Linked DNA regions of Homo sapiens: regions 1, 3, 4, 5, 6 and 7 are each reported to be linked to region 2. Evidence: microRNA targets listed by miRTarBase, many of them from high-throughput screens and not tested one by one. Region 2 holds a microRNA gene; each other region holds the end of a gene's coding sequence. Distances are from middle to middle.
What was found. Region 2 holds the annotated microRNA hsa-miR-6745 (UGGGUGGAAGAAGGUCUGGUU, at 2,522-2,542, shown strand). A microRNA usually pairs through its seed, bases 2 to 8, with sites in the 3' UTR of a target mRNA and lowers its output. Matches are read on the target gene's strand: a 7mer-m8 pairs with bases 2 to 8, a 7mer-A1 pairs with bases 2 to 7 and ends in A, and an 8mer does both.

Region 1: the mRNA of RETREG2 is a reported target of hsa-miR-6745. Seed matches in the 3' UTR shown: 7mer-m8 at 3,455-3,461.
Region 3: the mRNA of RAB5C is a reported target of hsa-miR-6745. Seed matches in the 3' UTR shown: 7mer-m8 at 1,025-1,031.
Region 4: the mRNA of ARL2 is a reported target of hsa-miR-6745. Seed matches in the 3' UTR shown: 7mer-m8 at 3,485-3,491.
Region 5: the mRNA of PLEKHA1 is a reported target of hsa-miR-6745. Seed matches in the 3' UTR shown: 8mer at 2,370-2,377.
Region 6: the mRNA of ZNF445 is a reported target of hsa-miR-6745. Seed matches in the 3' UTR shown: 7mer-A1 at 2,180-2,186, 8mer at 3,292-3,299 and 7mer-m8 at 3,710-3,716.
Region 7: miRTarBase lists ECSIT as a target of hsa-miR-6745. The part of its 3' UTR that is shown has no 7-base or 8-base seed match.

Annotation. Positions count from the first base shown.
Region 1 is chr2:219,182,166-219,186,219 of GRCh38, reverse strand. It overlaps RETREG2 (reticulophagy regulator family member 2), which reads right to left. Exons shown (of 9, transcript NM_024293.6): 9 at 745-4,054. The coding sequence ends at 3,591. Among named protein-coding and RNA genes, the nearest start is that of RETREG2, 5.9 kb to the right of the region's middle.
Region 2 is chr11:47,178,093-47,182,156 of GRCh38, reverse strand. MIR6745 (microRNA 6745) reads left to right here and starts at 2,420; the gene lies at 2,420-2,546. PACSIN3 (protein kinase C and casein kinase substrate in neurons 3) reads left to right here. Exons shown (of 11, transcript NM_016223.5): 5 at 1,467-1,702; 6 at 1,816-1,971; 7 at 2,571-2,746; 8 at 2,878-2,998; 9 at 3,127-3,263; 10 at 3,670-3,791.
Region 3 is chr17:42,122,148-42,126,201 of GRCh38, reverse strand. It overlaps RAB5C (RAB5C, member RAS oncogene family), which reads left to right. Exons shown (of 6, transcript NM_004583.4): 6 at 304-1,223. The coding sequence ends at 419. HSPB9 (heat shock protein family B (small) member 9) reads right to left here and starts at 3,398. Exons shown (of 1, transcript NM_033194.3): 1 at 2,850-3,398. The coding sequence starts at 3,351. The coding sequence ends at 2,872. RefSeq lists an enhancer at 2,546-3,083.
Region 4 is chr11:65,021,388-65,025,451 of GRCh38, reverse strand. ARL2 (ARF like GTPase 2) reads right to left here. Exons shown (of 5, transcript NM_001667.4): 5 at 3,268-3,731. The coding sequence ends at 3,597. All of the region lies in intron 3 of ARL2-SNX15 (ARL2-SNX15 readthrough (NMD candidate)), which reads right to left. Among named protein-coding and RNA genes, the nearest start is that of SNX15, 4.0 kb to the left of the region's middle.
Region 5 is chr10:122,429,673-122,433,736 of GRCh38, reverse strand. It overlaps PLEKHA1 (pleckstrin homology domain containing A1), which reads right to left. Exons shown (of 12, transcript NM_001001974.4): 12 at 1,392-4,064. The coding sequence ends at 3,799. Among named protein-coding and RNA genes, the nearest start is that of MIR3941, 15 kb to the right of the region's middle.
Region 6 is chr3:44,443,144-44,447,207 of GRCh38, reverse strand. ZNF445 (zinc finger protein 445) reads left to right here. Exons shown (of 8, transcript NM_181489.6): 8 at 1-4,064. The coding sequence ends at 633. Among named protein-coding and RNA genes, the nearest start is that of LINC01988, 17 kb to the right of the region's middle.
Region 7 is chr19:11,502,732-11,506,795 of GRCh38, forward strand. It overlaps ECSIT (ECSIT signaling integrator), which reads right to left. Exons shown (of 8, transcript NM_016581.5): 8 at 3,198-3,697. The coding sequence ends at 3,453. It overlaps ZNF653 (zinc finger protein 653), which reads right to left and starts at 3,108. Exons shown (of 9, transcript NM_138783.4): 1 at 2,757-3,108. The coding sequence starts at 3,055. RefSeq lists an enhancer at 2,204-2,273 and silencers at 2,424-3,093, 3,254-3,303.

The sequences.
Region 1 (4,054 bases), not on the chromosome of region 2:
CGCTCTGTCACCCAGGCTGGAGTGCAGTGGTGCAATCTCGGCTCACTGCAACCTCCGCCTCCCGGGTTCAAGCAATTATCCTGCCTCAGCCTCCCCAGTAGCTGGGATTACAGGCATGCGCCACCACACCCGGATAATTTTTGTACTTTAGTAGAGATGGGGTTTCACCATGTAGGCCAGGCTGGTCTCAAACTCCTGACCTTGTGATCCGCCTGCCTCGGCCTCCCAAAGTGCCGGGATTACAGGCGTCAGCCACCGCACCCGGTCCAAAATACCAACTTTTAAGGGAGCAGACAGAGGAAGAGAAGTCCAAGCTGACTTTAGTTGGACATTAAAAGCAAAACATGGTGATAATATTGTCCTTCCATGTTGGAATTATTCTTAGAATTACCGCCCTTGATCATTATACTTTTGCAGATCATTTAAATCTGCTTTGCAATATTCCCTTGACTAGAAAATTAAATTCTACCTAGCACTATTATCAACCAAACTCAACTCGTATCTGCCCTCTGAAGTCCTGCAGACAAACCTTTGAAGTTTGAAGCCAGCTGATGTGAACCAACTCAGCTCTCTTCTTGGATTAGAGATTCCCAGTTCCTCCAACAGTTTGTCCTATGATGATTTTCAGCCTTCATTTCTAGCAGTCATCTCCTGGACATACTACAATTTGCCCACAAGCCTAGCAAGCCATCCTCTGGAAGTATTAGGATATTCGTGCACAGGACACTAGAATTATCACATTTCTTGTTTTGGAGACTACACTTTTATTAATGCAGCCTAAAATTAAGTTTATAAGCAGCAACATTAAACTATTAGCTGTTTGAATACATAGCTAAAATGTACTCCCTCCTCCCCTAACATAAACATGTAGCCAACTCTTCTCCCCTCAGCCTGTACTTTTCCAGTTGATTTTTGTTTAGCCTAATTGTAGGTTTCACATTTCTGCTTTTTTCTTTTACTCATATGAAAACCTCTGGCCCTTTCATCGTGGGGCATGAACCGGCCAAGACACCTGATAATAGAAAAAAAAAATCATAGACAAACATGTAGCAACCATCAGACCATGGTGAATGTAAAGAATAGACCCTCATGAGGCTGGGCGCCGTGGCTCACACCTGTAATCCCAGCACTTTGGGAGGCCGAGGTGGGTGAATCACCTGAGGTCAGGAGTTCGAGACCAGCCTGGCCAACATGGTGAAACCCCACCTCTACTAAAAATACAAAAAATAGCCAGGCATCGTGGCATGCACCTGTAATCCCAGCTACTTGGACGGCTGAGGCAGGAGAATTGTTTGAACCTGGGAGGCAGAGGTTGCAGTGAACCAAGACTGCACCATTGCACTCCAGCCTGGGCAACAGAACAAGACTCCGTCTCAAAAAAAAAAAAAAAAAAACCCACAAAAAACAAAAAACCAAAACAACAACAACAAAAGAATAGACCCTCATGAAACTCCAGGCCTATGGAGAATATTTTGATCCAGCTACAAGCTTCTGGTTCTATTGTCAATGTCCAAGCTTAATAAGAAAATAGATTAAAGATAGGACATGTTGCAGTCATTGCCTGATTAATTCTATTTTTCTTGAATTGCTTGCTTATTGATTAGAACTGTTTTTCCATTCCCCTCTGAAATCTCTAAGTGATGAAAAGTTCGAGTTCCTTTAGTGGCACAGGACAGGGGCTCAATCAAACCCTAGAATGATTCTCAGTCAAATGTGAAGCAAACAGAAAAATTCTTACACACTTAGGAAAGACATGGCATAAAAGTCAACCTCAGAAAGACAGGCAGCATTACCATATGGTACCTCCAGCAGACAGCCAGGCAGCATTACCATATGGTACCTCCAGCAGAAAGACAGGTAGCATCGCCATATGGTACCTCCAGCTGAAGGCGGAGGACATGAACTCATAAAGGAGGCCATCTGCTCAGTTCTGGGCTTTTCTTCCCCAAAGAGGAAGGCTTGCCATGTCCACTCTTTGTTAAGCCAAGGCATCAGATTGGTTCTCTATAGTTCCCACATCCTTGTGCATCTTCCTACCTGTGCCCTATTAATGGACAGGGGCTGTCTGATGCATTTGCTGAAGCCAAAACTTCTTGGGTTTGGGTTCTGGCTCCACAATTTACTGGGACCTGTGGCCTTCAGGAAGCTTAACCTGTCTATAAAATGAAGTTAGTAACAGTATATATCTGACCTGTGAGGAAAAATCTTAATACATATAAATCACTCAGAGCAGAGCCAAGCACATACAATGGACTCAGTAACTGTTAAGATACTATTTCTTCAGTGTTCCTTGGCTCCAACTCATTTCTAACACAGGTAAAGGTCCTCTATTGCTTGTTTGGCTTCCCCAGTAAAGATAAATCCAGGCTGAGTGAGTTGTTAGCATGTAGATGGGTGAAGACTTCTTAAGAAAGCAGTGTTAAGGTTGTAGGCCACATGGTAAAACACAATTTTTATGGTCCCGAATTTCTACCGATTGGGAAGACAAAGCAATTTCCTCCTGCATATACTTTATTCACACATGCTAAATCTCACTAAACAGATCACACTGTCAAGGAAGATGGCTAAGGAGAAGCTAGGGTTGTCAAGGTAATCCTTGCTTCGGCCCTGTTTTGCAACAAGGTAATAAACAGCCAGAACAGACTGGAGTGAAGCAGGTTAAGGGTGAGGAGAGAACACAGTGCAGTGCAGGGTGTGGAAGGCAGCTCACAGTCAGGGAGGCAGCAGTTCTAGCCAATCAACACTTTATTTTTCAAGTCAACACCTGCACAGATGTTAGTGTCCACTTCCTGACCCTAGTAGGGGGTCCCACTACACTTGGATCACCCAGAGGAGCAGTAAGGAAGCTCCTAATCTCAAGAGAGAGCACATGCTCACCAACTCCAGTGCTGGCGCCATGTACTGCGGGATCCCTGCTCTCCTGCATCATGAAAGGCCGGGCTGAATGGGGCAAGGATGCAGTGAAGGTTACACAGACTACAGTGACCTAAGAGTGTAACTACTGGCCTGACCCACTGCCCCAGGTTTACTCTTTACTTCCCAGACCAGGAGCCTCCCTAAAGCTTGGCCAGTGCCCACGGGATAGGAGGAGCTGGCAAAGGATGGGGTTGAGCTGCTAAGGACAGGACACAGCAGGGAAATAAAGCAGAAAGGAACACAAGACAAGAGAAAAATTATAAAGTGCCTCAACTAAACAACCAAGTGGGACATGAGGGCAGAGCAGCACAGGTCCCTGAGGATAGGAGGAAAAAGAAAGGGCCAGACCACCAGGGCTTGGGGCATAGTGGAATGAGAATAGAGATGAGGCAGGGAGGCAAGCGCAGGCTGTGGGAAGGACTTCCCTAGCCCTGTTCACATCCACTAACCCAAATGGAAAATTATTTACAAATTTAAAACCAATCCTAGGCACAGGTACTGCACCATGCCCAGGACAGCAGGCAGGCAGGCAGGCAGAGGGTGGAATAGCTACCATCCGACAGCCAGCTTCCCCACACACTGCCCCACCCCAGAGTGGTAGGCAAAGGAGGAAACAGCAACACTCCTAGCCAGGAAGCCCTACTGTGCCTGCAGCTCCTTCCTCAACGGCTGGCTCATGGCTCTGCCACGGCCTGAGCTTCTTGGTCTGACTGTACCAGAGAATGGATGTCGGGCCCCAGGGGTGGAGCATCAGGGGGTTTTGGCGGTGTCTCTGGCTCCAAGCCCAGCTCTGCATTCAGCTGCTCCAGCTCCCCCTGATCCAGCAACTCAAAGTCCTCAGTGGTGAGTGCCTCTTCTTCCTCAGGGGCAGGCAGGGGCTGGGGTGAGTCCTGGGGAACAGGTGGGAGAATGGAAGGGGAGGGGGCTGGGTCACTTCCAACAAGGCAAAGTGGAGGTGACAGGGTGCCGGGCAGAGCAGTGAGGCCACCACTCACTGTCTCGGGGCTCAGTGTCTCCACTGGTCCTCCAGGGGAGCATTTCACTCCATCTGGGGGGGACCCTGCCCCATTGAAGTGCGTGTTCACAAAGTGGAGGGGGGATGAGAGCCGCAACAAGGTTTCCTTAGCTGCCACATCCT
Region 2 (4,064 bases):
TTTTTTTTTTTTTGAGACGTTTTGCACTTGTTGCCCATGCTGGAGTGCAGTGACATGATGTTGGCTCACTGCAACCTCCGCCTCTCAAGTGGTTCTCCTGCTTCAGCCTCCCAAGTAGCTGGGATTACAGGCACCCACCACCACGCCTGGCTAATTTTGTATTTTTAGTAAAGACGGGGTTTTACCATGTTGGCCAGGCTGGTCTCAAACTCCTGACCTCAGGTAATCCACCCACCTCAGCCTCCCCAAGTGCTGGGATTACAGGCGTGAGCCACTGCATCTGGCCTTCTTTCCTTTGTTTATTATTTATTTATTTTGAGACAGGGTCTCACTCTGTCACCAGGCTGGAGTGCAGTGGTACAATCATGGATCACTGCAACCTCTCCCTCTCCCACGCTCAACTGATCCTCCCACCTCAGCCTCCTGAATAGCTGGGACCACAATAGCTGGGATCACAGGCATGGACCACCACACTTGGCTAATTTTTGTATTTTTTGTAGAGATAGGGTTTTGCTATGTTGCTCAGACTGGTTTTGAACCCCTGGGCTCTAGCGGTCCTTTCTCCTTGGCCTCCCAAAGTGCTGAGATTACAGGCGTGAGCCACCGTGCCCGGCCTGGATTACAGGCATGAGCCACCGCACCTGGGCCTGTTTTATGCATTTTCTAGAGGAGAAACTGGAAGCTCAGAGAGGCTAAGGGACTTGCCTAAAGGCACACAGCTAGGAAGTGCTGAAGGTTGAGCCCAGGCCCTCTGACTGGGAGCATGGATCTTTCCACCCTGCAAGCTGTCTTCCTCGAGGGCACACACAGGCTCTTCCTTTGAGGCAATGGAGTGTAGTGTTTACACAACAGAGATGGGTTTGAATCTCAGCTCCTCTTTTTTTTCTTTTTTTTTGAGATAGAGTCTCGCTCTGTCACCTAGGCTGGAGTACAGCGGCGTGATCTCAGCTCACTGCAGTCTCCCCCTCTCGGGTTCAAGTGATTTTCCTGTCTCAGCCTCCCAAGTAGCTGGGACTACAGGCGCCCGCCACCATGCCCGGCTAATTTTTTGTAGTTTTAGTAGAGACAGGGTTTCACCGTGTTAGCCAGGATGGTCTCGATCTCCTGACCTTGTGATCCACCCGCCTTGGCCTCCCAAAGTGCTGGGATTACAGGAGTGAGCCACTGTGCCCGGCCCTCAGCTCCTGTTGTAGCCATAATGCTTTGGGCGAGTTCACATCTCTGGTCCTCAGTGTTTTGCCTGTTCAATGTTGGCAATGTCGCTGTCCTCACGATGGTGGCTGAGACAAGGAGTCAGTGAGATAAGGCACATGGTCCTCATTCAATAAGCCCAGCTGACAGGGTTGTCATTCACCTTTGCACCCCATGCGCGTACCCCATGCCTCCATGCCTCACACCCAGTGAGAGGGGCTAGGCTCATTTTGGGTGGTACCCAGGCCTGGCCTAAGCCCTGTCCCTCCCTGCAGGCCCCCAGTATGGCACACTGGAGAAGGCCTGGCATGCCTTTTTCACGGCGGCTGAGCGGCTGAGCGCGCTGCACCTGGAGGTGCGGGAGAAGCTGCAAGGGCAGGACAGTGAGCGGGTGCGCGCCTGGCAGCGGGGGGCTTTCCACCGGCCTGTGCTGGGCGGCTTCCGCGAGAGCCGGGCGGCCGAGGACGGCTTCCGCAAGGCCCAGAAGCCCTGGCTGAAGAGGCTGAAGGAGGTGAGGCTGGGTGGGGGAGGTATCCGAGACAGGCTCCTTCCTGTTTGTTTGCAAGGGATCGAGGGGGCCAAGGTGTGGCATCCAGGGTCCAGAGTGGTCTCCATGCATGCCAGGTTGAGGCTTCCAAGAAAAGCTACCACGCAGCCCGGAAGGATGAGAAGACCGCCCAGACGAGGGAGAGCCACGCAAAGGCAGACAGCGCCGTCTCCCAGGAGCAGCTGCGCAAACTGCAGGAACGGGTGGAACGCTGTGCCAAGGAGGCCGAGAAGGTACAGGCCACAGGTCCCAGCCCTGGCCCCCGCCCAGGGCACGGCTTCCTGAATGAATCTTGCTCCCTGAACATCTTGTCCAGTCCCCAGCACCCTTATTACCCTATTCCTCACCTGCCACCCTCTCTCCAGATGATCATTTAAAGGAGGAACCTGACAAAAGGTGATGCTTTACTAGGGAAAGAAATGGAGTTTCAGGCACTGGGATGACTTCAGCAGTTGAGAACTTCCAGCTCTTTTCCTTGCACAGTACCCTTTGCCCGAAGTGTCCTTTCCTGCAGCTCTGGATATGCAAATCCTCCCCATCCTGAGATGCTGCAGTTTCCACCTCCTCCAGGAAGCCTTTTCTGATTTCTCCCATCCTTTCCTGTAGGTTGACCTCATTTCAATCCTCACCAGACTCTTTTATATGCTGTGCCTGATGTCACCTCCCTTGTTAGGCTGCTGGGGTCCTTGAGGGCAGGAGCTGGGTCTTGGGACTGATTGCCCCTAGTGGCTAGCCCTGGGTCTAGCAGCCTATGGCAGTGTCTGGTAAACACTGGTGGAGTCCTGGGTGGAAGAAGGTCTGGTTCTCACCAGGCCCCTCCTCTCCCACCCAGACAAAAGCTCAGTATGAGCAGACGCTGGCAGAGCTGCATCGCTACACTCCACGCTACATGGAGGACATGGAACAGGCCTTTGAGACCTGCCAGGCCGCCGAGCGCCAGCGGCTTCTTTTCTTCAAGGATATGCTGCTCACCTTACACCAGCACCTGGACCTTTCCAGCAGTGAGAAGTATGAACTGCCTGGTGGGCATGGAGATCTGGGGTAGTACTGGGTCTCCTCCATCTCCCCGAGGCCCTGGCTGGGACTGAGGGATGCAGGGTCTAGACTTCCTAGACTGAGGGGTGTGCCTTGGGTCATAGGTTCCATGAACTCCACCGTGACTTGCACCAGGGCATTGAGGCAGCCAGTGACGAAGAGGATCTGCGCTGGTGGCGCAGCACCCACGGGCCAGGCATGGCCATGAACTGGCCACAGTTCGAGGCATGTGTTCCAGGCGGGGTGGGGATGGGAGGTGGGATGGGCTCCCACTCAGCTCGGCCAGGGCTAGGGATGAAGTAAGTGAAGGTGGTTCAGATGGCCCCACCTGACTATAAGCACTGTCCCCACAGGAGTGGTCCTTGGACACACAGAGGACAATCAGCCGGAAAGAGAAGGGTGGCCGGAGCCCTGATGAGGTTACCCTGACCAGCATTGTGCCTACAAGAGATGGCACCGCACCCCCACCCCAGTCCCCGGGGTCCCCAGGGTGAGAGCCAGGAGCGCGGCTGTGGCAAAGAAACAGCTCTGCCTCCCGCCCTCCTTTCCTTTCTCCTTGGTTTCATTTCTTTCACACCTGAAATGGGTTGAAAATTGGTGCCAGGGACCTGAGGGCCTACTTAGTAGTTGTAATGATACTGGTTCTCATAGTGGTTTAGATTTGCTGGGCATTTCCCACATTCCCTCTCGTTTATGCCTTAAATCAGCTGCGTGTGGCAGGAATTGCCTCTTTGCTCACAGTCGGGCATGGCGAGGTAGAGCTAGAATCTTTAGTACCTCACCTGACTCTCCCAGGTGCCTCTGGGGGTAGGGAGGCCTTTGCCCTGATCCTGGGTGAGATCTCCAGCCCCGTGTTCCTTGCACTCTGAGCTGCTCCCTTTGCCTCCCCTCTCCAGCACGGGGCAGGATGAGGAGTGGTCAGATGAAGAGAGTCCCCGGAAGGCTGCCACCGGGGTTCGGGTGAGGGCACTCTATGACTACGCTGGCCAGGAAGCTGATGAGCTGAGCTTCCGAGCAGGTACCCTGGGACCCCTTTCCTAGCTTCAGCCTCTGCCTTATCTGCCTGAGCAGGGGTGTCAGAAAGGGAAGCCAAATACCCACTTCTTAAGGGCCAGTCCTCTGTCCCTTCAGCTGTTCCAGGTCCAGATAGCTGGTGCCTGGTGGCTGCATTCAGGGTCTGGGGTGGGGCAGCTTGCTGACCTTGACCTGCCTCTGCCTGAGCCATGTCTTTGCTAGCTGGGCTCTGGGACCACACCATCCCCCTCAGTCCTTGACCCAGTTGCAGGAACAG
Region 3 (4,054 bases), not on the chromosome of region 2:
TCAGAGCCTGCCATCACTACCCCTACCCACTGCCTAGGAGTTTTTAGCTCATTTGGCTCTGGAATCTTCCTTCCTGGGTTGCAGATCCTGGCTCTACCACTCATTAGCTCTGTAGTCTTGGGCAAGTTATTTAACCTTACTTTGCCGCAGTTTCCTGAAAACAATCAGAATGCACCTGACACACAGAAGCCCTCAATATGTGAGTTACCACTGATTGGGTATAAAGGCCAGAATCTGCTCCAGTGGAACTGGGAGAGTTATTGGGGTACCCCCAACAAATGCACTTTTCCCCCTCCCAAACAGCTAAGAAGCTTCCCAAGAACGAGCCCCAGAATGCAACTGGTGCTCCAGGCCGAAACCGAGGTGTGGACCTCCAGGAGAACAACCCAGCCAGCCGGAGCCAGTGCTGCAGCAACTGAGCCCCCCTTGCCTGCCCGCTGCCCCCGCCTCCTCCGCCTGAATGACCCGACTGGAATCCACTCTAACCAATCGCACTTAACGACTCGGGCCACCACTGGGGGGGCAGGGGGAGGGGTCCACCATGATTTCTCCATATAATTTTGATCATAGGCCGGAGTGAGTCATTCCACCTGCACCTTTCTGTACAAATACTAATTCAATTTTAAGTCTTAAGTCACTTTTTTAATATATATGATCTTCTGCTCTTCCCACTTCCTCCCCTTTCTACTGCTCTCCCATTTTCCCTTGCTGGGAGTAGCCACATGCTCTTGCCCCCCAACCCTTGTATATGGGGACAGTGGGGTCAGTGCAGCTACCCTTTCTTTCCCTCCTGCGGAACAGCGGACCCAGCAAGAGCATCCACATCCTCACTTTGTTCGGAGTGGTCTTTGGTTTGGGCGGTGGGGCAGACCTTGGGAAGGGGCTTAGGAAGGGAGAGGCAGCTCTTCCTTCAGCTGGCTCTCATCAGGCTGCAGCCCCCTCCCCGCTCCCACCTCCCTGCTGGGAAACCACAGCATTATCACAGCATTATTGTGACAGCCACGAACCCATTGCCCACAACCCCTCCACCCTCGGTCACCCCAACCTCTGGCTCTGAGCCCTGTTCTGACCAAATCATGATGATGAGTATTTGGGGGTGGGTGGGTAAGGGGGGGAGTGGGAGGGGACGGAACCAACTTTTTCTGTATTTTGTATTGTATGTTTTCTTCAACATGTAACCAATCAGTATCTTGTCAATATAGTCAGCCGATCGATCGACCTCACAATTGTCTTCCTTGTCTTTCTCTGGCAGTTTATCAGACAGTGCCCTCTGTAGTTGAAGTTGATTTAAAATGAACCACTGAATCTTGTTAAACAAAATCTTCCCCTCTAATGTGAGGGGATGCTGGTGGTCATGGTAACCAAGAGAAAGAGGCTCTTACTGTTAGCAGCTCCGATGAGGTAGCTGACCTGGGCTGACCAAGTTTGAAGTTTCAGGGCCCGTGTTCACTTCTCCACCTCCCTTCCCCTCCCCCACCTACCAGATCATACTGGGGTGACATGCAGTGTGTATTTGATGATCATTAGTCTCTGAAACACCAGAAACAACCTCTTTGGGTTTTTTTTGGTTGGTCTTTACCAGTGAGAGGGTCTGGATCCTCTCTCTTCCTGAAGAGGAAGGAATCCCAACAGCCCCTGGAACGCTGGACTGGTCTTAAGGCCAAGACTGTAGCCACTGGCTTTCCTCACCACCTCTGTCCACGTCACCCCCCCACACCACATCCAAGTTGCCCCAGTCCAGCTCTCTACTGGTTCTGGAATCAGGTCTGGGCACTCAGCTCTCTGCTGCTACCTGTTGGAGCTGCTGCTCAGCTAGGGCCACACTCTCCTCCAATTTCTCCCAGGGCCACAGAGGCCTGATTCCCTTTTTTTTTTTTTTTCTTTTTTTGAGACGGAGTCTCTGTTACCCAGGCTGGAGTGCAGTGGTGCTATCTCAACTCACTGCAGCCTCCACCTCCTGGGTTCAAGCGATTCTTCTGCCTTAGCCTCCCAAGTAGCTGGAATTACGGGCACCCGCCACCACGCCCTGCTAATTTTTGTATTTTTAGTAGAGACAGGGTTTCACCATGTTGGCCAGGCTTGTCTCAAACTCCTGGCCTCAAGTGATCCACCCGCCTCAGCCTCCCAAAGTGCTGGGATTACAGGCGTGAGCTACCACAGTCGGCTTTTTTTTTTTTTTTTTTTTTTTTTTTTTGAAACGGAGTCTCACTCTATTGCCCAGGCTGGAGTGCAGTGGCACGATCTCGGCTCACTGCAAGCTCTGCCTCCCGGGTTCACGCCATTCTCCTGCCTCAGCCTCCCGAGTAGCTGGGACTACGGGCGCCCACCACCACGCCCGGCTAATTTTTTTGTATTTTTAGTAGAGACGGGGTTTTACCGTGTTAGCCAGGATGGTCTCGATCTCCTGACCTTGTGATTCGCCCGCCTCGGCCTCCCAAAGTGCTGGGATTACAGGCGTGAGCCACCGCGCCCAGCATTTTTTTTTTTTTTTTTTTTTTTTTTTTTTGAGACAGAGTCTCACTCTGTGGCCCAGGCTGGAGTGCAGTGGCAGGATCTTGGCTCACTGCAACCTCCCTCCACCTCCCAGGTTCAAACGATTCTCTTGCTCAGCCTCCCGAGCAGCTGGGATTACAAGCACACACCACCACGCCTAATTTTTGTGTTTTTAGTAGAGATGGGGTTTCACCATGTTGGCCAGGCTGGTCTCGAACTCCTGGCCTCAAGTGATCTGCCCGCAGAGGCCTGATTCTTGGTGGACCACCACCTTGAGGGTGCCTTTCCTGCCTCCTGTGCCTCCAGTCCCTCTACCTCTGACTTCCATCCCCAGAAAAGACAACGGACACCAAGGCTGCTGCACATCGCGTCGTTTGTTTACCGGGTCAGGTTGGAAGCCTTAGAGCCGAGGCTCCCGAGTCTCGGGGACGGTCCTGTTTGGGCTTCAGGGAGGGCCAGCGCCACACACTGGCCTCTGACCCACAGCTGCCCGGAGGGGGTCAGGCAGCAGGTCATGGCGGTAGGACTCAGGTTGGACGGGAGCATTTTCCGGTGCACCTTCTGTGACATGCGGTAACTGACCCTTTCCGGGTCCCTGACGTCCAGTTGCTGCTGTCCGGTCACCATCAGCCATTGGCCATCCACCTGCACCACCAGTTCCTCCGGGGCGAAGCCGTGGGCATCCAGCTTCATTTGGAAACCGTCTCTGGCATGGTCATTGTCCTCCTGAGCCGCTGGACTGTCCCTGAGCAGCCGCACCGGCATTGTGGCCACCCGGTTCCGTTCAGCAAGGCCCACGCTGGGACACCGGGATGCCACCCGGCTCTCGTTGGAGAAGGTGTTACCGACTCTCTGCATCCGAGTCAGCAACTAACTGCTGTCAAAGGGCGCGAGGCTCCCAGCGCAGAGCTAGGCGCACGGACGCCCGGAGAGGAGGGACCTCGCGCGGCCTACCCGAGCTCAGCTCCGCTCGCTCGGTTCCCTTCGCTTCTGCAAACGCAGGCGGAGTTCGGGATCAGCCACGCCCATCTTACCTCCAAGAGCCAGACTGTCAGCGCCCTGGCGCGCCCGCAGCTGCTCTCCTCCCAGACTCCGACCCTTTCTCCGCCCTTCCCCACCTTCGTTAATGGACCCGGGGAGGCCGCAGCTGTGAAGGAACTGGATCCACGACCAGGCCAGACCCGAGGGAGCCGCACCCTGGCGCAGCCAACAGCAGATTGATCCCCCAGCTGGAAGGGGGCTGTCTTGCCTTCTAAGGACCAGGCCTGGGGCAAGGATTGTTCCTAGACAGAGCCAGGGGAGGGCGGCCTTCCTGGGTCATCCACCCTACCTCTCCCTGACCACCCACAACCCCACGCGGACACGCGACACGAGGAGGTGGACTGGTCTCTCCGGCTGCATTAATTCTTCCCGGGGCGTCCTGTGCTGCAGGCTGTGGTCTGGGCTCTGGGGCCACAAAGATGAAGACGCAGTTGGGGCTTCAGGAGAGTGGCTCCCAGTGCACAGAGAAAGACCTAGCCCTCCTCCGCCTCACCCTCCACGTCAGTAGCCTTCTTGGTGA
Region 4 (4,064 bases), 18 Mb from region 2:
TTTGAGACCTTTGCTCCAGTCAGTGTTAGAATTGAAGCAAAAATCTGTTGAAATGCAGCATGAAGTTGGTAGGCTTACATACAACACATAGTATTTACTGCAGAGGAAGCATTGTGAATAGCCACTCTTGTTCCTGGAATTCAGGTGTACAGGTGCGGTGCCTTGGTCTTCAGAAAGAAGCAAAGCCTGGCATGGGGCTCATGCCTGTAATCCCAGCACTTTGGGAAGCCAAGGCGGGAGGATCACTTGAGGCCAGGAGTTCAAGACCAGCCTGGGCAACAGGCTGCCTCTGATTTCATGAGAAATTTAAAAATTAGCTGGGGGCCAGGTGCAGTGGCTCATGCCTGTAATCCCAGCACTTTGGGAGGCCAAGTCGGGCGGATTACTTGATATCAGGAGTTCAAGACCAGCCTGGCCAACATGATGAAACCCCATCTCTACTAAAAATACAAAAATTAGCCAGGTGTGGTGTCGGGTGCCTATAATCCCAGCTACTCGGGAGAATGGGGCAGGAGAGTTGCTTGAACCCGGCAGGCAGAGATTGCACTTAACCTTCTGGAGGAAATGTCATCCAGGAGCCAGTCAATGCCAGGCAGTGGGTTCTCCCCAGCAGTGGGGCTGCAGCCCTTGACGTACCAGTGGTGGCTGCAGAGAGTCCAGATGCAGGGCTTGGGAGAACAAAGGTGCTGGTGGTGGCCAGTGACCGCAGACCCTTCCCTCCCTGCTCAAGGGTCAGCCCATCCAGGAAGCCTCCCCGGCCCCTGGGAGAGCTTATCTGTTCCCCGGGGCACCTGAGCTCTCTGTACAGTGCCACGCCAGTGCCACCCCTTAGTGTCCCATATAAGAGAGGATCCTGATAGGCGGCACTGCATAGGGCTGTCCCTAACTGTATTGCTGAATGGAATGGGTAGTACTTAGAACAGTGTAGGGAAAAGAGAGATCAGACTGTTACTGTATCTATGTAGAAAGGGAAGATAGAAGAAATTTCATCTTGACCTGTACCCTGAACAATTGCTTTGCCCTGAGATGCTGTTAATCTGTAACTTTGCCCCAGCCACTTTGCCCCAACCCCTTTGCCCCAACCTTGAGCTCACAAAAACATGTGTTGTATGGAATGAAGGTGTTTTTTTTTTTTTTTTTTGAGATGGAGTCTCGCTCTGTCGCCCAGGCTGGAGTGCAGTGGCGCCATCTCGGCTCACTGCAAGCTCCGCCTCCTGGGTTCATGCCATTCTCCTGCCTCAGCCTCCCGAGTAGCTGGGACTATAGGCGCCCACCACCACACCTGGCTAATTTTTTGTATTTTTAGTAGAGACGGGGTTTCACCGTGTTAGCCAGGATGGTCTCAATCTCCTGACCTCATGATTCGCCTGCCTCGGCCTCCCAAAGTGCTGAGATTACAGGCGTGAGCCACCACGCCCGGCCTTGGAATCAAGGTTTAAGGTCTAGGGCTGTGCAGGACGTGCCTTGTTAACAAAATGTTTACAGGCAGTATGCTTGGTAAAAGTCATCGCCATTCTCTAGTCTCAATAAACCAGGGGCACAATGCACTGTGGAAAGCTGCAGGGACCTCTGTCCTGGAAAGCCGGATATTGTCCAAGGTTTCTCCCCATGTGAGAGTCTGAAATATGGCCTCGTGGGATGAGAAAGACCTGACCGTCCCCCAGCCCGATACCCATAAAGGGTCTGTGCTGACGTGGGTTAGTAAAAGAGGAAAGCCTCTTGCACTTGAGATAGAGGAAGGCCACTATCTCCTGCCTGCACCTGGGAACTGAATGTCTCGGTATAAAACCAGATTGTACATTTGTTCAATTCTGAGATAGGAGAAAAACCGCCCTATGGTGGGAGGCAAGACATGTTGGCAGCAATGCTGCCTTGTTATTCTTTATTCCACTGAGATGTTTGGGCAGAGAGAAACATAAATCTGGCCTACGTGCACATCCAGGCATAGTACCTCCCCTTGAACTTAATTATGACACAGATTCTTTTGCTCACGTTTTTTTGCTGACCTTCTCCCTATTATCACCCTGCTCTCCTACCACATTCTTCTTGCTGAGATAGTGAAAGTAATAATCAATAAAAACTGAAGAAACTAAGAGACCGGTCCCAGTGTGGGTCCTTGGTATGCTGAGCGCCGGTCCCCTGGGCCCACTTTTCTTTCTCTATACTTTGTGTCCTATTTCTTTTCTCAGTCTCTCGTCCCACCTGACGAGATATACCCACAGGTGTGGAGGGACAGGCCACCCCTTCACACAGAACCCTGCAGAGTAAGCAGCTGCTAGGACCCTGTGCCATGAAAACATCTGCCAGTTTTGCCACTTGGATTGGACCCCTGGGGTGGCCTCATTTCCTATCCTTTCCCAACCTGGCACTGCTTCTGAGTTCCTGTAGCCTTCAGGGAAGGCCTCAGTTACCCCTGCCTGATGTGGCCCCCCTCCCACCCTCTGGCTGCACTCTCTCCTACACATGACTCTATGCACCTCCCCATTTCCCAAGAGCCATTGCTTTTTTTTTTTGAGACAGAGTCTCGCTCTGTCACCCAGGCTGGAGTGCAGTGGCGCAATCTCGGCTCACTGCCAGCTCCGTCTTCCCGGGTTCACGCCATTCTCCTGCCTCAGCCTCCCGAGTAGCTGGGACTACAGGCGCCCGCCACCACGCCCGGATAATTTTTTGTATTTTTAGTAGAGACGGGGTTTCACCGTGTTAGCCAGGATGGTCTTGATCTCCTGACTTCATGATCCGCCCATCTTGGCCTCCCAAAGTGCTGGGATTACAGGTGAGCCACCGCGCCCAGCCGGAGCCCTTGCTCATCATGCCTGTCCTGTGATCCCCTCTGCCTGAATCTGTGCTGGCCTTGTACAGCTGTTCAGGTTGTCCACTGCACATGGGTTCCTGGCTGCAACAGAGAATTGGGAGCTGAATTTCAGCCCATGTTCCATGCAAAAAGTTGGAGCCCTGGTCTGCAGCTGTGTCTGTTTTTCTAATTCATACCTATGAGAGTTGGATTTCCCCTGGTGAACTGTCTTCCCCTTCCTCTACCTAGAAAACTACTCGCGCTTTACTCCCAGCTTTAATGTGACCTCCTTTAGGAAGCCTGCAGATGGAATCAGTTGCACCGTGTCCCATGCTTCTATAACTTTTTCTGCATCCCTTTGACATAGCCACAGTTCACCATCGACTCCAATGATCCATTCCTTTCTGTCCCCTGCTAGATTGAGGGTCCCAGGTGGTCTCTAACGCTGTTGAATCAACAAATGACTCAGCCAGGAATCGGGGCAAGGAGCGGTTTATTTCACAACTGAGTGAAGGATGAGGCCCACAGCCTCGGTAGCAGCAGTAGCAGCTCCTCCCCGCCCAGCCCTCTCTTCTTGGTATGGTAGCCAAAGGCCAGGTCAGGAGCCAGAGAGACAGCCAGGGCACAGCCCTCCCGCCATGGGAGCCGGGTGGCCACAGAGCAGCAGCGGGCAGCAGTAGCAGCAGCAGGCTGGGGTGGAGGAGGGGGAGTGTTAGTTTGGCCGGCTGACTCCCAACCCCCCATGGGTAGTGTTTGGTGAAGGTTGAGGGACCTGGACTGCTAGGTGGGGGGCATCTGGAGTGGTTCAGTCAGCTGTGAAAATGCGGCTGGAAATGTCATCCAGGAGCCAGTCGATGCCCGGCAGCAGGTTCTCCCCGGTGACGGCGCTGCAGCCCTGGATGCACCAGTGGTGGCTGCGGATGGAGTCCAGCTCCAGGACCTGGGAGGACAAAGGTGCTGATGGTGGTGGCCAGTGACTGCAGACCCTGCCTGCCGTCAGCCCCTTCCCTCCCCAGCCCAGAGGAACTCCACGCCTTCCTCAAGGCCCTGCTCCATGTCATCCCATCCAGGAAGCCCCGCCGGTCCCAGGGAGAGTTTGTCAGACCCCAGGGGCACCTGGGCTCTCTGTCCAGTTCCATGCCAGTGCTGCCCCTTAGTGATGTAAATGCAGCATGGGCTCCTGAGCATCCACCAGGATCCGGGCATCGTGCTAGGAGCCCCACACACCCTCTCTCACTCATTCTCCTCAAGCCCTCATGAGCCAGGGATTGTG
Region 5 (4,064 bases), not on the chromosome of region 2:
ACCTCAAGGTCCTTGCATTCTAGGACAATGTATTCCATCCATTTGTAGCAGCAGCATATTAGAACACACACAGGAAGTACGTGAGCTGCTGTTGCATGGCTAGACATTCACAAGTCACTTGATTCAACAGAGATCTGAAGGTCTAAGATGAAGAAAGCCATTTCACACAACAAATGGCCTTCAGAAAAAGACTGAGAAAAAAAAAAAGAACACTAAGCCTATGTGTTTTGGAGAGGAGGTGCGGAATGCCATAGGTTATTAGGAAGCAACCTGGTATATTTGGCTGGATTACTCTAGCTACACCCTGGGCACAGATCCTAATGATGCTCCCAAGTACAGTGAGAAGCCAACAGTTACAGCTTCGTTGCTAACGTGCCCCATGGGCCAGGCAAATCCTCCTCCTTTCTGGGGTCTCAATTTATCTCAGTTAGCATTGATGGTGGGGGCTTGGCCTAGCTGATCTTTAAGTCGTCATTCAGCTTTTCAGGAAAAGGCAACAGATGAAGATGTCTACTTTGATACCTACTCTGCACAATGACAGGAATAGGGTAGTCCAGGAGAGCCCCAACAGGACATGAATAGGTGAGCAGACATACTGGTTCAAAGTCATTCCCGGCTGAATTTCAGAGAACAAGGTATGAACATGCCAGGGAAAAGCAGCAGGATCTGACAATGGATTAGACACAACAAGCAAAAGAAGGTATCTCGAATCATTGAAGGCAAGTTGCTTTAAGGAAAGAATATTCCAGAAATTCAAAAGTACAATTTATCTAACAAATAGGTATACACTTTTCTCTAATGTGGGAAGTTCACACATTCTACAGTAATGCCTTGTCCTCACTGGAGAAGTATTTAAGCTTTACCAAGTGCACCAAGCACTGCACTAGGCCCTGTATATGGTGTTCACCGCAACAGACGTGGAATATTTATCACCAATAGGGAACGTTTGCAAGGAGCAGCCTCTAACACCCGACATAGTTTTTTGAGTGCATCTCAACTGCCCACCCGGAGATTAAGATGCCCTCTGCTTTCCGCCTTACATCATGCCGTCTAAATAATCATGGAGCACTGTGAGCAGCCCAGATGATCCACACGATGCTCTGAGGCTAACATATGATAATTCTGCTTTTGAGAACATGTTTTTTAATTAAGAAAAATAAGCAAGTTCTTTCCCCTATCAAAAAAAAATCATTTTTCCTTCTATAATTTCACATGCAGGGATGCATTAAGAATTCACAGATCTGAAGTTTCTTATTCTTGCAAAGATGACCAAATAATTACTCTGTCCTTAAATATGTAAACTGAAGTCAATTAACCAAACACACCCCTAATCATTGTATTTACTTCATCACACAAGGGCTGAACCAAACAAAATGAGAAATAAGTCAGAATAAACTCTGTGCAGTTTATTCTCATTACAGTGTTCAACCAGTTTGACATATAAAGATAACACACTTTAACAGTAAATGTTGGGAGGCACACATATATTCCCATTCTGAAAGAAGACATGTTATATATACGGAAAAAAATGCAGCAAATATTAAGGTATTCAAAGTAATTTTTTTGAACTCAGATGTGACATATTTACAAGAAAAGTGTGTACGTTTTAAAATAATTAAATAATTTCCATAGACTTATAAAAGAATTGAGATAAATATTAGGAGACCCTGACAATCACCAGAACATTTTCCTATGCTATCGAACAAGGATAGTTCTATTTTAAAATGTCCCAAAACAGAGCTAATATTTTGCCACCATGAAATATATCAAATTGCAAATACTAAAGTGAACATGCAATGTGGAAGCTGTACCAAAATTAAACAGCATTAGGTTCTTAAATATTGCAAAGTGTCTATTTAAGATTTCTCGGGTGTGTTCATGAAAAAGGAACTTTCAAAAAAGCCATTAAAATGAATATATCAGCTGAAAAAGTGATAACTCATTAAAATCTCTTTATTCTATCACTTTCAAATGTAGCTGCAAAAGAGAAAAAATCTTAATGTAACTTTAAAAAAATATTAGCTTATGAATAAAAAAGTTGAGTGGTGCATTCTTTATGCATACAGATTTTTAAACTGATATTGTATAATTCTAATACATCTTAACCTCTGGACTGCACTGCTGTAGTAGGAAATTTTTCTGTCTCAGACAAGAAGTCATCTAAGAAAATGAAAACGAGAAATTTTCAATGATATGCATGAATTCAAAACAAAACAGTACTGTAAAATGGCAAAATATAAAAATAGCAGCATGTGAAATTCAAGACTGTTTTCTTAAAGCAAATGTTTAAGACTGAACCTCAAAAACGGTACTTATGGGCCGGGCATGGTGGCTCACGCCTGTAATCCCAGCACTTTGGGAGGCTGAGATGGGTGGATCACCTGAAGTCAGGAGTTCGAGACGAGCCTGGCCAACATGGTGAAACCCCATCTCTACTAAAATACAAAAATTAGCCAGGTGTGGTGGCATGCACCTGTAATCCTAGCTACTCGGGAAGCTGAGGCAGCACAACTGTTTGAACCCACGAGGTGGAGGCTGTAGTGAGCTGAGATCACGCCACTGCACTCCAGCCTGAGCAACAGAGCGAGAGCCCGTCTCCAAAAAAAAAAAGCAGTACTTACTCAAACTGGTCTATAATTCAACGTCGGAAACTAAAGATTCTTTAGAGAGGTGCTTATATCTATATCCCTATGATTAAATGTATTCTCAAATTTGTTTTTTAAAACATATATATTGCACAAGTAGTAGAATACCAGCATTCTGGTATCTCTAACATAAAATCCTATCTTAACACATTCAACTATTCTACTGAAAATTAATTTTATCACAATGTTTAAAATCAGTCACGTAGGACTTTTAAGCACATTAATCTCAAAACATTCCTAAACAAGATGAAAAAACACAGGCACTTGAATGTAGGCTATTAGTGACAAAAAGTAGAGGTCACAACAATTTCATGACTAAGGGCAGTTATGTCTTTACATATAAACTTGAGGTCTTTCACCAATCCAAATATAGAAATAACAACTATTTACAAAACTTGGATAAGAAAATCAGATCTCCCAAAAATTTCCTACCAAATAATTTTTGCGGAATAAAGCAGTGACTGCTCCAAGGCCTGATGAAGCTTTTTCAAACAAATGTCTAAGACACAGTTGTTTCAATTCTAGTTTTCTTCTTTTCTCTATGCCGGTATAACCCACAACCCTTACTGTTGGTCTATCCATATCCTCTATGCAAAATAAGTCACCTCAAGATTCAGGGCATCAAAAATGGTTATAATTTCAAAATAGTCCACATTTTAGTATAAATTTTACAGCACCACAGACATCATGAGTTTAGGTATCTTGGTCTGGCAATATTTCATGTGGTAATATCAACCAATAAGAATGTGTAAATATTGAACCTTTAATAGGAAGTCATTGTAGCATTTTTTAAATGACCAAAGTTATTAATAAGCATTTTTAATGCTTTAAGTTGTTAAACATTTAAACTGTCAAAATCACTAAGAAAAAAATATTACACATACATTGTTACCACCCGAATGAGAACACACAATGCTTCAGACAGATGATACTGAGATATTTTGGATTTTTCCTTTTTCTTTCTTTTTTAAAGAAATTATATTTAGTTTGGCCACTCCCTAGATTCTTGGTTTACCAGCTTATAAAGAGTACACCTAAGAGGCAGTATAATATACGCACTAAAAACCATTTCCCCCTTTATCATCTTTGGCTAGAAGCCTCATGAAAGGAAACTGAGGACGGCAGAGGCAGGCAGGCTCCGTGCGCTTCTGCCTCACACGTCACTGACCGGAAGGCTCGCATCGTCCAAGTCTACTAGGTCACAATCTTTTTCCTGAGGGCCATTTTTACTTTGAGGTCTTAACAGAGCTTGTTCAGTCACTTTGGAAGCTGGTTCTCTTGGAGAGACAGTCTGGACCTTGAAGTTCCCTGGCTTGACCTTGGCAAGAGACTCGTAAAATCCTCGCTTCTCCATGGTAAAGGTTGAGACCAAAGAGTTGCTGCGAGAGGCTGTGGAATGTGAGGTGGCGGTGGCTGCGT
Region 6 (4,064 bases), not on the chromosome of region 2:
GAAAGTGAAAAGACTCCAAATGTGGAGCCAAAAATCCTCACTGGTGAGAAACGTTTTTGGTGTCAAGAATGTGGGAAAACCTTTACACGTAAAAGAACCCTTTTAGATCATAAGGGAATACACAGTGGAGAGAAGCGCTATAAATGTAATCTATGTGGGAAATCTTATGATAGAAACTATCGCCTTGTTAACCATCAGAGGATCCACTCTACAGAGAGACCTTTCAAATGTCAGTGGTGTGGGAAAGAGTTCATTGGGAGACATACCCTTTCCAGTCACCAGAGGAAACACACCAGAGCAGCACAGGCTGAACGTAGCCCGCCTGCACGGTCTTCCTCTCAGGACACAAAGTTGAGATTACAGAAGCTAAAACCAAGTGAAGAGATGCCCCTCGAAGACTGCAAAGAAGCTTGCAGCCAGAGCTCCAGGCTCACTGGACTCCAGGACATAAGCATTGGGAAAAAGTGCCACAAATGCAGCATATGTGGGAAAACTTTTAACAAGAGTTCACAACTCATTAGCCACAAGAGATTTCATACTCGAGAGAGGCCCTTCAAATGCAGCAAGTGTGGAAAGACCTTCAGGTGGTCTTCGAACCTGGCTCGGCATATGAAAAACCATATTAGAGATTAGCCTGGGACCTGACAGTGACAGTGGGGGTGGGTTCTCAGTCCCCTGCTAGAGAACCCTTAATTATAGGCATTGTGGAGTAACTTTGATAAAGGGCCCAGCCCTTTCTGTTTTGGAAGCTAGTGACAGAATCCCAAGGATTTGAAAGCTCGGGGAGTCCCCAGCCTGCCTGCTAGGATGTGACGCTGGGGAAGTGCAGCACCATGTCCTTTGGAGCCCTTCTGGAGACTCCGGCCCCTAGGAGTGGCCTCTGCACCATAGCCTGCGGCTCCCCTATTCAGGTCTCCTTCCACAACTCTGAAGAGAGAGACCACTGCCCTTTGTGGTTGGACAGAATATCTGTGGCATCATGGGCTATGGCTGCTGGAAAGGGGCCAGTGGGATCCTAGATTTGTCTTCAAGTTTGGCCTGTGGCCATGCCTATTCTGTTGACTTTAAAAGCAGCAGCATCAAGAACTCCTAGCCTTCCCAAATGCCCCCTGGGGAGTTCTGGCTGGGGCTTCAGCCTTCCTGGCTGGCTTTTGGATATCTGCTAGGGGGTTAGAGTGGTCTCAGCGGCAGGTGGAGGAGAGCAGGATGCTGGGCTCAAGCGCTTGGCGTGTGGATCTCTACCAGTACCCTGTTGCCATCCCCATCCCACAGGCCTGCATAGGCAGCAGCGGTCCATCTGTTTAACAGAAATGTGCTGAGCACTCCCATACACCAGGCGCTGGTGTGTTTGCCAGAGACCCAGCAGGGACCAGAACAGATGAAAATCCTGCCATCTTGGATCTTTACAGATGACAAACAAATGGGATACGCAGTATTCTGGATGGTGATGTGTGTAGTGGACAAAGTGAATCAGAGAAGAGCAGAGGGAGTGCTGGATTGGGAGATCAGTCGTGATTTTAGATAGTCTGGTCAGGGAGGGCCTCAACTGAGAAGGTGAAATGTGAGCAAAGACGTGAAGGAAGCCAGGGAGGTAGCAGGTAGCTCTCTAGGGAGAGTTGCAGGCAGAGGAGATTGGGTCTTGACTGGTGTCCTCAGGAAGGAAGCCCCTGGGATGGAGTGCAGGGAGCCAGCTGGAAGGGAAGGAGAGGGGCCAGGGAGGCCACAGGCCCGGCCATATGAGCATCATGGGTCATTACGGGGGCTTGAGCTGGCTCAGAGGGAGGCAGGGAGCTTTTGGACAATTTTGAGTTGAGGAGTGATGTGGTTTGAATCTGAATTATATTTTATAAGGGTTAACCACAGATCCAAGGACTCAGTAAAAGGGTGAAAGGCTTCTCATGCAGTTAGCCTTGCTGCCAGTTCCCATAAATCAGACTCCTCCCCACTCCGTTTCTGAATTTTCTATAGGATCCTCGGCCTCAGCAGATATAAACGCTTACCATTGTTGTGTTCATGTCTCTAGCCCCTGCACACTGCAGGCCCCTCTCAGCTTCACATACCCCTCTCCATGTATGAGATCTGGTGCTAGCAATCAGATTCAACCCGAAGGAACAAGTGCATGTGCCTGCTGCTCTCAGGAGAAAAGGCAGCCTGTTCTGGGAGGAGCTCCCTCACTGGCCCACCCACTTGTGTTGAAGCAAAAAGCAAGAATCAATTACTTAAAGGCAAAGGAGTGATATTGCTAAAGCATGTGAGTAATCATTGCTTCTGATTATTGAAGAGGTCAGATTATGAATGAAAGGATAAAATGTTTTAATAGTAGAGCAGTGTCCTGACTATAGGGGCCCGTTCATGGAGCTGGTCATTTCTTGAAATGAGAAGAAACCAACCTGGAAGATGTCTTTTTCAGTAGAGTATGGAATAATCTTACCTGCTCTGGATTGCCATGAGCAGGTGAAAATGAAGGCTCTGATATTGTGTGGTGGTGTCACAGGATGGTGGGGGCGGGGCAGAAGTCTCCTGTTGGTGTTCTGATGCCTGTTCAGCTTTGTCCTCAGGAAGGTTTGGTCATCTTGGTTCTGCCATCCTCTTGCCTTCCTACGGCAGCAGCTGTTCATGGCACTGAAGATGTCCCTTCACTGTCCCAAAACTGGCACTAGAAGTGGCTGGGCAGGGGGGCCAGAGTCATAGGAAGGGTCTTGGAGTCATCAGATCTGGGTTCCAGGCATGGTGTGCCTTTTCTTGGCAGGATTGATCTTGAGCAAGTCAATGAACCTCTGCATCAATTTCCTTATGTGTGAAGTTAGAGTGCTTGGCTGTGCTACCTGATTCCTGAGATTGGTGAAAGAGGGCTTGGTTTACCAAGGCTCTCCATCAGGTGGTTGACCTCTAGGACCAGGGCCCTCTCAGAGGTGCAGCTTCCATGTCAGTTGGTGTTGTAACCATGGAAAAGTCCCTTTCCAATCAAACTTTTAGCACCCCTTTCCCCCCATCTCTGCTCCCTTTGCCACAGGATACCTTGTAAAGTTCCTGCCCCAGTATAGGGATATTTTTACTGTCTTTTTTATTTTTTGAGACAGGGTTGCCCAGGGTGGAGTGCAGTGGCAGGATCACAGCTTACTGCAGCCTTGACCTCCCAGGCTCAGGTCCCATCTGAGCCTCCCGAGTAGCTGGGGCTACAGGTGTGTGCCACCCTGCCAGCTAATTTTTTATATTTTTTTGTAGAGACAAAACTTTTATTTTTTTTTCCCATGTTGCTCATGCTGGTCTCAAACTCCTGGGCTCAAGCAATCCACCCACCTCTGCCTCCCAAAGTGCTGGGATTACAGGCGTGAGCCACTGTGCCTGACCTGTCATTTTTATAGAATGAAATGTGCTTATTTCTAAACATTCTAATCAAATTTTAAAATGTGCAAAGAATGAAGTGAAAAACTGAATTTTTTTTTTTTTTTGATACGGAGTCTCACTCTGTTACCCAGGCTAGAGTGCAGTGGCGCGATCTCCGCTCACTGCAAGCTCTGCCTCCTGGGCTCACACCATTCTCCTGCCTCAGCCTCCTCAGTAGCTGGGACTACAAGTGCCTGCCACCACGCCTGGGTTATTTTTTATATTTTTAGTAGAGACGGGGTTTCACTGTGTTAGCCAGGATGGTCTCGATCTCCAGGATGGTCTCGATCTCCAGGATGGTCTCGATCTCCTGACGTCGTGATCCACCCGCCTCGGCCTCCCAAAATGCTGGGATTACAGGTGTGAGCCACTGTGCCCGGCCAAAAGAACAGAAATTATTTTATCCTGAAGTAAGCTGTTTATATTTGGGATTATACTGAACCTATTTGTCCAATAACCTGAGTTTTCAAATAATTTTAGTTCTATAAGTACTATAATTATATAAATATTAATGAATTCAGATTAGCTGAAAGGAAAAAAAGTAGAAGCCTGACTACTTGGTGCTAACTACTAAAGATTTTGGCAGAATCAATGTTGGATTTGGCTTTCCTGTCCCTTCCCCATGCCAGCCCCCCAGAGTGTTCTGCCTTGTGCTGCCTCCCTTCACCTGGAGTGCC
Region 7 (4,064 bases), not on the chromosome of region 2:
TACATTTAAATCTGCAACCCCGCCGGGCGCAGTGGCTCACACCTGTAATCCCAGCACTTTGGGAGGCCGAGGCAGGCAGACCTCTTGAGGTCAGGAGTTCGAGACCAGCCTAGCCAACATGGCGAAACCCCGTCTCTACTAAAAATACAAAAATTAGCCGGGCATGGGGGTGCACGCCTGTAATCCCAGCTACTCGGGAGGCTGAGGCAGGAGAATCGCTTGAACGCGGGAGGCAGAGGTTGCAGTGAGCTGAGGCTGCGCCAATGTACTCCAGCCTGGGTAACAGAGCAAGACTCCATCTCAAAAAAAAAAAAGGTGGGGGGGGCATCAGGGGAAATAAAGGCAGACCATACCACTTCTTTCTCTGTACAAAATCTTGCACTTAAGAAAAGGCTCCCACCTCACTGGGAGGAAAAACTGGAGTCCTCTCCATGGCTCTGGATGACCTTCCCTGTCACCAATCTGTCCTTGTCTTCCCTTCTCCCCCTCACTCATTGCAGTCCAGCCACACAAGCCTCTTCAGTGTTCCTGGCACACAATAGGCAGGGTCCTGCCTCAGGACCTTTGCCTTTGCTATTCCCTCTGCCTCAACTCTTCCCCAGAGATCTGCATGGCTCCTCCTAGGTTCCTTCATGTCTTTACTGAAATGCTATCTTCTGAATGTGACCACCTTAACTCCCTATTTAAACTTCCAACTCACACTCTTCATTTCACTTTTGTTTTTTCCGTAGCCCCTATCTCTCATGGACGATACAATTTACTTATGTTTCTGGTCTGCAGTAAACAAGCCTTTTGCCAGGTATGGTGGCTCATGACTTTAATCCCAGCACTTCGGGAGGCTGAGGACGGAGGATCCCTTGAGCCGAGGAGTTCGTGACCAGCCTGGGCAACATGGCGAGACCCCCATCTCCATGAAAAATTAAAAAATTAGCCAGGTGAGGTGGCTCCTCTGTAGTCCCAGCTACTTGGGAGACTGAGGCAGGAGGATCCCTTGAGCCTGGGAGGTTGAGGCTGCTGTGAGCTATGAACATGCCACTGTACTCTGGCCTGGGTGACAAAGTGAGACCCTGTCTCAAGAACAAACAAACAGGGCTGGGCACAATGGCTTACACCTGTAATCCCAGCACTTTGAGAGGCTGAGGCCGGAGAATCACTTGAGCCTAGGAGTTTGAAATCAGCCTGGGCAACACAGGGAAACCTCTGTCTCTACAAAAAATACAAAAATTAGCCAGGTGGAGTGACGTGCACCTGTGGTCCCAACTACTCAGGAGGCGGAGGTAAGAGGATCACTTGAACCCACGAGGTTGAGGCTGCAGTAAGCCGTGATCATGCCACTGCATTCCACTCTGGGCGAGAGAGTGAGACCCTGTCTCAAAAAGAAAAACGAGGGCCGGGCGCGGTGGCTCACGCCTGTAATCCCAGCACTTTGGGAGGCCGAGGCGGGTGGATCACGAGGTCAGGAGATCGAGGCCATCCTGGCTAACAGAGTAAAACCCTGTCTCTACTAAAAATACAAAAAATTAGCCGGGCGTGGTGGCGGGCGGCTGCAGTCCCAGCTACTTGGGAGGCTGAGGCAGGAGAATGGCGTGAACCCGGGAGGCGGAGCTTGCAGTGAACGGAGATCGTGCCACTGCACTCCAGCCTGGGCGACAGAGCAAGACTCTGTCTCAAAAAAAAAGAAAAGAAAAGAAAAACGAACAAAAAAACCCCCCAGACCTTTGAACAAGCCATCCCCTCTGCCCACCAGAATGTCCGCTCCATGAGGCAGGTATCTTTGCGCTCCCAGCATTTCCAGTCCTGCTCTTGAGCATATAAGCCAGCCTGCTGTCCTGGGAAAGGGGTGGGTATAACTTAGCAGGATCTGTTTGATTCTTGACTCTCAGAATCTCCCCCCAGAGAAACATGAGAACATGTGTACCTGAAAACCAGGGCAGAACAAGGATTTCCTTGCGGCACTGCTTGTGATACGGAATAAACGTCATCCTCGTAAAAGTTAATACTTAGGGAACCCACTACCTGCCAGGCACTCTTCTAAGCTCTTTGCCTATTTTAACTCAATCATCACATCAACATATAAGGCAGGAAGGGAAAAACTCCATCCACACTGCTCCTTCTCAAGACTGAGAATTTACAAAGACAGGCCTCTCTGCCCTCCACCTGCCAAGCTAACTAGGGGTTTCCTCTTCATCCGAGTCTCCCTGGGCTGAGTTGCTTCACAGAAATAGGTTTAGGGGAGTGCAGTCCAGGTTGTGAAGGGTCCCCCGGATGTGTTGGATCTAGGGTTGTGGGAATGGGGCCATACGGAGTCCCAGATGGGGCACCAGAACTTCAAGAAGGGCAGGGCTGAGTGCCCCAGGGTGTCCAGAGTCCCAGGCCAGGTGGGGAACTAAGCGGGGGAGGATGAGACCGGTGAGGGGGCGGGGCTGCCCCCCCAGGGCCTGGTTAGTTACAAGGCCTGGAGGTGGGGCCAGTCCCAGGATTGGGCCGCCAGAGTTCTAGCGGGCGGGGCCAAGCGCTCAGAAGGCGGGTCGAGGGGCTGGGTGCACCCTAGGATTGGGCAGTCGGAACGATGGGAGGCGGGGCCACGAGCCAGGCGCGTCCCGGCCAGGCAGTACGAGACCCAGGCCGCCGGCCCGGCTCCTGGGCGGGGTCCGCAGGTGCCGGGGGCTGGCCCTAGAAGCGGAGGGGGCGGGGTAAAGCCCGGCGGGGTCTGGGGGCGTCTCCTCCCTCCCTCCCTCGGGGCCAGGCCCCCTCACCCGTGGCGGCCGCTCCGCTGGCCGCGCTCCAGAGAGATGAGGTAGGCGGCGAGCTTGGCGTCGCTCCAGCCGCTGCGGCGCCGCAGGTCCACCCAGGGCCCGTGCGCCTCGCCCAGGTACACGCGCCGCACGTCGTACTTCTTCCGGGACTCGAGCCGTCGCCGGGCCCGGTCCGACTCCGTGAGTCGCGGCCGGCCCCGCGCCTTTCGGCCCGCTGCGCCCTCCTCGGCTGCTGCCTCCCCGCCCGCGCCCGCCTCAGCCTCCGCCTCCGCCTCGGGCTCTAGCGCCCGCTCCGCCATCCCCCCCACCCTGGTTACCAGCCTCCCCCGTTGTTAGGAGCCAGACCGGAAGTGGCGCGCATCTTCGGCGCCGCCGAGAAATTTCTCACGGTCTCTCGCTGCCCCAGGGCGCCAAAAGGAGACCAAGAATGGAAACTGCGCATGCGCACAACCAACAGCGCTCCCGCCCCTTTTTATTTGAATTCGGAGAACCAGAGGCGCCTGCAGATTCTGGAGGGGTCTCGCCTGCCCATCGCTGGCAGCCCGAGATCCTGGGGAGGGGATGCCATACTGCTAGAGATGAGGGAAGAGAGCCCCAAGCAGGAAAACATTGATTTGCTGTACACTCAAAGGGCATCTCATGCCTTCAGTCCACCGCCTCCTCGGGCCACAGCCCGTGCCCTCGCGCCGGCTCAGACTAGCTCTGGCCCTGCTGCTGTCGCTGCAGGTTGTCGTCTTCTTCCTGGTGGTCCTCGGGCAGGGGCGGCTCCTCCAGCCCTGCAGAGGATGTCTGGAGCTCCCGGGTGGACCCGGCGAGGCGGAAGACCACGGGGATCTGGGCCAGGGTTGGGTTGGTCTCCTGCAGGCCCTGGATCCACTTAGCCATCGTCGCCTGGTCATGAGCACCCGCCATGCACATGGCGAAGACAGGGCCTTCCTCCACTGTTGGAAGACATGCACCCTTAAGGTTTGCACAGTGGGGGCTGCAGCGGCTAACCCATGCCTACACCTTTTTGAGGTATTTTACACTCCCTTCCACTTCCTTTTTTTTTTTTTTTTTTTTTTTGAGACGGAGTCTCGCTGTGTCACCCAGGCTGGAGTGCAGTGGCGAGATCTCGGCTCACTGCAACATCCGCCTCCCAGGTTCAAGTGATTCTCCTGCCTCGGCCTCCCGAGGAGCTGGGATTACAGGTGCACAGCACCACGCCGGGCTAATTTTTAAATTTTTAGTAGAGATGGGGTTTCACCATGTTGGCCAGGCTGGTCTCGAATTCCTGACCTCAAATGATCTACCCGCCTCAGCCTCCCA